Homo sapiens: one gene and its partner. The protein of the gene in region 1 interacts with the protein of each later gene in a pairwise test. Each region holds a gene or a part of one and is shown in the gene's direction. Other genes may lie near its edges.

Evidence for each region. The genes of interacting proteins can lie anywhere in the genome.
Region 2: the proteins of STX6 (region 1) and TMEM9 interact in binary tests that used the Homo sapiens proteins (3 or more experiments, as listed by UniProt).

What each region holds. Positions count from the first base shown.
Region 1 is NC_000001.11:181,016,371-181,019,870, reverse strand, and holds part of STX6 (syntaxin-6), read left to right. Parts: intron 1-3,500. UniProt on the Homo sapiens protein: SNARE promoting movement of transport vesicles to target membranes. Targets endosomes to the trans-Golgi network, and may therefore function in retrograde trafficking.
Region 2 is NC_000001.11:201,144,475-201,147,974, reverse strand, and holds part of TMEM9 (proton-transporting V-type ATPase complex assembly regulator TMEM9 isoform a precursor), read left to right. Parts: intron 1-1,126; coding exon 1,127-1,235; intron 1,236-2,639; exon of another isoform or gene 2,640-2,866; intron 2,867-3,500. UniProt on the Homo sapiens protein: Transmembrane protein that binds to and facilitates the assembly of lysosomal proton-transporting V-type ATPase (v-ATPase), resulting in enhanced lysosomal acidification and trafficking.

The sequences.
Region 1 (3,500 bases):
TTAATTGTTCCAAACATACATAAAAGGTTTTTGATAACTGAATTGCTATCAGTTACCAAGTTTACATTAATTAAAATTTAATTTCTGTCACACTAGCCACATTTCCAGTCAGTAGTTGTATGTGGCTTCCGTGTTGGACAGCACAGTGTAAGCTTTTCTAGAGTCCTAGACAGGTGTACCCTACTTAATATTATTCAGTGGCTGCTGCTGGCCTGCAGAATAAAGTGCCAACACTTCCTGACCTCACTGATCTAGCCTCTGCTCTCCCTTAGCCTTAGTACTCCAGCAGTGCCAGACTCAATACAGTGACTGTGATTGCTGTACTGGATGCTCTTACTCTACATGCACCCACACTGCCTGATTCACCCACGCAGCTTTCTGGAGTCAGTGTAAGCATCTCCCTTGCCTCCAGGAAGTGCTTCCTTTGTCACCCCTAATTATTGGACCTCTTCCTCTGTCTCTCTTTCATTATTAGACTATGAGCTCTGAGGTTTGGGACTGTTTTTTTTTTTTTTTTCCTCTGTATTTCCAGCCTACACCTTGAATATATAGTGTAAATGTTGAACACATACTCTTTGTTGATGGTGGTGATTGTGATGGAATGGTGCCTCATGGGTGAGAACACCACCAGCCAAAGGCCTAAGTTGGGCAATGTGTGTTAGAAATGATCTGGAAGAGCAGCCCAGGTGGAGTAGACAGTTTAGGGAAGTAGTAACAGCTCACATTTAAAGGATGCATCTCCAGTGCCAGGCATACATGTAAAGTGCTAAGTAAGCACTTTATATGAATTTTCACTCTGTAAAAACACCCATATGATGAATACTAGCCACATTTTAGAGATGAGAAGCTGAGGAAGTGTTAGAGGGGTTAACTTACTTGCCTAGGGTCACACAGCTAATAAGTGGTGTACTCAGGCTTCAAATTAGAACAACCTGATTTCACACTACTGTCAATACTTCCCAGTGCAGGTAAAATAGGGTCAAGTTATGTTGGCCTAAGGAGAATCTCATCTTGAGGCCATTACAGATTTTTAAAGCAAGGAAATGACATGAAATTAGGATTTTAGGAATATTGATTTGGTGGTAGTGTTGGATGCATCAGTGTGAGGAAAGATGAAAAAGGAGACCAGTTAGAAAGCTGTTGTAACTTATACATGCAGTGGTTAGTGCTTGGAAGTTTGAAGCTCCTTTTGGGAGGTTTTGACATTGTCAATGTCCTGTTCGGAACAGAATCCCACAACAGGGATTGCTCTTTTATCCTTATGAAGTAGGTATTATTATTGTCATCATTTCACAAAAAGGAAAATGAAACTTAGTAAAAAACTTCAACTTTATAAGCTTGTACGTAGAAGGGCCAGGATTTATATATTTATTACAAATATATATTATATATATAATATGGTCATTTTAAAAATTGGGATTATACGTTATATATGGTTTTATCACTTTTTCTTTTCTTTTTTTTTTTTTTTTTTTTTTTTTTGGGACAGAGTCTTACTCTGTCGCCCAGGCTGGAGTGCAATGGCGATGGCGTGATCTCAGCTCACTGCAACCTCTACCTCTTGGGTTCAAGCGATTCTCCTGCCACACCCTCCCAAGTAGCTGGGACTACCAATGTGCGCCACTATGCCTGGCTAATTTTGTATTTTTAGTAGAGATGGCATTTCACCCTGTTAGCCAGGCTGGTCTTGAACTTTGACCTCAGGTGATCCACACACCTTGGCTTCCCAAAGTGTTGGGATTATAGGCATGAGCCACCGCGCCTGGCCTGTTTTATGACGTTTTCATCTGTATTTCTTTATATCCTTCAGACTTCTGGGTGGCAGCTTTTAATGACTGCATTGTATTTTGTCATATAAATGTTCATCCTGGAAGATACATTATATTTATGATCACACTACAATTAATGTGGTGATAAGCCTACTTGTCATAGGTCTGTATTGCTGCTTCTGATTTTCATAGCCTGTATTCCTGGAGCATAATTGCTAATTCAGAGGGCAGGCACAGCAAAGCGTTTGATGCATACTACCACGTTGTCCTCCAGAATATTCCCCCTTGCCCCTCAAAGTGTTTGAGGGACCCAATTCCCTTGATTCCAGTACTGGGATTTTCATTAAAAAAATCTTTACTAATCTCCGGGTGAAAATATCATATTTAAATCTTGTAGTCTTCATCTTTGTATTCAGTAAGGATGTACTCAGTGTTTGTTGAGTGAACCCATTTTGATTGTTTAGTTCTGTAGTTTTTTTCCTCCCTTGTTGGCAAGTTTTTAGAATTAGCCTCCTTTTAGAATTTGCACCTTCTAATCAGACAAACCCTGAAGAAAACCATGTAACTGAGCATGTGGAGACAGAGTATAAGTGAGCCACTCCTGTGGATAAAAGGTACAAATACCATGGCTCTTTGCTATTTTATTGCTGTGGAGGTTTTGTGTGTCTGATGAGGATAGTTTTTTGTTTGTTTGTTTGTTTGTTTTTTTGAGACGGAGTCTCACTCTGTTGCCCAGGCTGGAGTGCAGTGGCGCGATCTCGGCTCACTGCAAGCTCCGCCTCCCGGGTTCACGCCATTCTCCTGCCTCAGCCTCCTGAGTAGCTGGGACTACAGGTGCCCGCCACCACGCCCAGCTAATTTTTTTTTTTTTGTATTTTCAGTAGATACGGGGTTTCACTGTGTTAGCCAGGATGGTCTCGATCTCCTGACCTCGTGATCCTCCCACCTCGGCCTCCCAAAGTGCTGGGATTACAGGCATGAGCCACTGCGCCCAGCCGAGGATGGTTTTTTTGTTTGTTTGTTTGTTTTTGAGACAGAGTCTCATTCTGTCACCCAGGCTGGAGTGCAGTGGCGCGTCTTGGCTCACTGCAACCTCCGCCTCCCGGGTTCAAGCACTTCTCCCTGCCTCTGCCTCCCGAGTAGCCCGCCATCACGCCCGGATAGTTTTTGTATTTTTAGTAGAGACAGGGTTTCACTGTGTTTACCAGGCTGGTCTTGAACTCCTGACCTCAGGTGATCTGCCCGCCTCGGCCTCCCAAAGTGCTTGGATTACAGGCATGAGCCACCGCACCCAGCATGATAACAGTTTTATTTCCAGGTTTTTGGCTGTGGATTGATGTTGAAATAATGACATAAGTAAGCTGATGAGTAAGATGGTATATGTTATGTTGTGTTCTTTAACCTTCTCTGTCTGCATATCTAGCTTTATTAACACTAGATTATGAGCTCCTCGAGGGCATCACGCATTCTATTCACTGTTGAAAAACTGTATTGGTATAGTCACTGTGAAAAAAATAACCCTTGTTTGTTAATTTTGGCCTAGTAAAATTGAATGTAAATCAAATTTAATACTTTCTAAAAAGCAGAATCCAGTGTTTCGTTGTAAGAACAAATTTGCAAGCCTTTATTATAAATTTGAGTGTTTAATATTATTTAGCTCCTTAGTTTGGAGAACACTATGCAGATAAGTGAAAGATATATTGTGTAAGATTTTGCAGTAGAGTTGAGATG
Region 2 (3,500 bases), about 20 Mb from region 1:
GATTGGATTACAATGCAGTGCATTGGCGGGGGGTTGGGGGGAGCTGGCTATTGGGCACAGGTGGCTAAGCTGAGAGTTAAAAGATGAGGTGGCAAAGCCATGCCCTCCTGGTGAGAGTGTGGGTGTGGCTCCTTCAGAGAGCAGCCTGGCAGATCCGTGTGGCTGGAGGTTGGGAAAGTGGGTGAGGGAGGCGTAGCAAGAGATGGAACTGGAGTGAGGTGGGTTGGGACCCCTGGCAGAGCAATTGAGTTAGCATTGGCCCTAGGGGCTCTGTGGAGGCACTGACCGGGCCTAAGCTGGGGAATGACATGACCAGAGTTGCATTCTGGAAAACCACTTGGCTGCCGTGGGAAGGTAGTATGTGTTAGAAAGGCCAAACTCGAGGCAGGAGGGCAGCGCGGAGGCTGGTGCGGTTGTCCGAGGAAGATAGGATGAGGGCCTCAGCTAAGACACAGCAGTGGGAGAGAATAAAGGAGATGGATTCTAGGAATTTTTAGGGAAGTAAAATCACTGGCCTTTGGTGATTTTACTTAGATGAGAGGAAGGCAGTGTCAAAGATGATTTCCAGGGTTTGACCCGGACAGTGAAGTGGACGGTAGAAGTGTTCTCTCTGCCATTGCAAATGGGGAGCCAGTTTGCAGGAGTAGGGAGTTGAGGGCAAAGGGTGTGCAGGGGCGGGTGTAGAGTTCATGGTCTCTATGGGACATGCACATAGTGACTCCTGTAGCTCATAGAGGAGAGCGGCCCTGGCTGGAGATTCTGATCTAAGATCCGTCAGCTTCTGAGTTGAACCTTTGGGACAGATGAGCACATGCCGGGAGAACATAGCATGAGATGAGGAAGGCGGCTGGGGGTAGAACCCTGGGAACGTTGATGGTTTTGGAGCCAGCCCTGTAGGCAGTTTGGAGAGCTGGTTTTGATGTGTAAGGGGCATGGGCTGTGAGGCTGTGGGTTAGGAAGGGTTTCTGCCAGCCTAATCCTTTATAAGCCCTTGGCCCTCTCTGGGAGCACCCTTCACCTTTGCCTAGCCCCTACCTCTCAGCTCCCCTGGCTACCTGCTTCTCTGGTCTTGAGGCTCTAAGACGTGGTGGCCCTGCCTCGACAGCCCTGTCTCTCTCTGTTGTAGCAACTGCCTGCACGTGGTGGAGCCCATGCCAGTGCCTGGCCATGACGTGGAGGCCTACTGCCTGCTGTGCGAGTGCAGGTACGAGGAGCGCAGCACCACCACCATCAAGGTAACGCCAGGGTCTCAGGAAGCCAGTGGGATTCCCACACGCCATTCTCCAATCGCAGACTGGCCTACACCCACAGTTTTTCACTTTATTCTGGAATGTCCCAATGGCTATGAGACTGGCTTCTAGGCTGGCCTAGTGCAGACACTGGGACCCACATCCCACACCTTCCTGGAGCCAGCTCCCTTCTCTGCTCTCTTTCCAGTAGTTACCATTACAGTGAGAGGGGAGAGCCCTGGGAGAGCTGCTGGAGACTCCTTTTTCCCTGCATTCTTTACAGTTTATTTCGTTCCTCTCCCTTCTTCTATTCATCCAGTAAATCTCTTTTCGGTGCCTGCTATATTCTGGGCAAGATGCTGCCAATGGGGAGGTTGGGCTGCCCTCCTGGAGCTTAGTCTAATTAAGCTTCCAAAGTGACTAAGCTCCTCTAAAAAGCATCAGAGCTGTGGACTAGGGCTGGGTGTTGGGTGCTGGGAGAACATCAGATTGGTTCTTTTGTGTTTTCCTGAACCACCTTCTCATTGATCATTTGGGTGAATTCAGGAAAGAGATGATAGACACAGTCACCACCATAGACGTCACGAGGTGTCTGTTCATTCCTGCACCAGGCAGAACTTCCCGTGTCTTCTAGAGGCTGTGAAGCCGCCCTAGCAGAGACCGTCATGACCCCCAGCCCCCCAGTGCGGCTTCCTAGTCCAGGTTCTAACAATCCTGGGCCAGGCACCTGGCACACACAGTACTCACTGATTACATAGCCATTTCTTTTTTTGTTTGTTTTTTAGAGACTGGGTCTGACTCTGTTGCCTATGCTGTAGTCCAGTGGCACGATCACAGCTCACTGCAGCTCTGACCTCCCAGGCCCATGCAACCCTCCCACCTCAGCCTCCTGATTAGCTAGGACCACAGGTGCACATCACCACACCCAGCTAATTTTTTAAATTTTTGGTAGAGACAGGGTCTCACTGTCTTGCCCAGGCTTGTCTCGAACTCCTGGCCTCAAGCACTGCTCCAGCCTTGGCTTCCCGAAGTGCTGGGATTATAGGTGTGAGCTCCATGCCTGGCCTAATGTAGCCCTTTCTGTTCCAGTTTGTAGCATTTTTCTGCTTGTCCTTTGAAGAGTCTATAAATAGCATTGGAAAATAATTCTCATATTTAAAGGCACTGCTGGGTCCTCCATCAGGTTTCTCCTTTCGAGGCACATTTAGGGGGCGGTGGTCTTCACTGCTGTCCTTCCTGCCTATTCCAGGGAGCCCTGTGCTGTAGCTCCTCTGTGTTCTCACCACTCAGGGAAAAAGCAGCTGTCTGTCCTTCACTCCCAGCCAGTGCCCTGTGCAGACCCAACTCCTTTCATCCACCTGAGGCAGCCCCTCCTGCAACTGTCATTCTCCTTCTCTGAACTTGCTCCAGTGGGCCTCACCCTCCAGGGACCAGATGCCTGAGACCTGAAATTCAGAGCCAGATGTCACCGCTGCTCCCTGTTTGGCCGGGAGGGAACTTCCTGGCATGGGGACCTCATCAGATACAACTTCCTAATCCCTCGTGTTTCCCCCAGTCCTCCTACCTAGGAGGCTCCCCTCAACTTCAGCCTATTGAAGACCCAGCCTCTGTTCTCCTTCCGCCTTCCTGGGGTACAGGTGAGGTCTGATTATTTGCCCTGTTTAAACAGGCGTGAACGCGGTGCCCCAATCAGGTGGGACATTGGTCCAGTGGAACTTGGCTATTGGCTGAGCGGGGCACCCAGCTTGAAAGTCCTGAGGTTCTTTTTTTCACTCTTCTTCACAGTCTAGGTAGGGCAGGGCTGAGATCAGAAGCCGGCAATGGCCAGGCATTGTGGAATTAGGAAAAGCATTTGAGAGGGAGTCAGCAAGTCTGGGTTTGAGTCACACCTCCACCATCTGGTAGCCTTGGGATCACAGGTGATCTAGCCCAGCAGTTCTCAATCAGATGATTACAGCCCCCCCAGGGGGCATTTAGAGGTGGGTGAAGGTGCTTTTGTGGTCCCAATAACAGGTGTATTACCAACACTGTTACAGGGACCATGGATGCTAAATGTCCCACCCAAAATCCCAGAGCACCCACATTGAGAAACATTGAATTTGCCTCATTAAATCTGTCTTTTCTGTAAAAACAAAATGACTCCAGCTTGTGAAGCACTGTGTATGTAAGAGATTCGTGGAGTTGTTGTTCTACCCTTGGCTTTCCCCTCCCTGCAGAGGGGCTGATGGGAGGGCAGGCGTGACCTTCACCCCCAGCACACACCTTCTTACC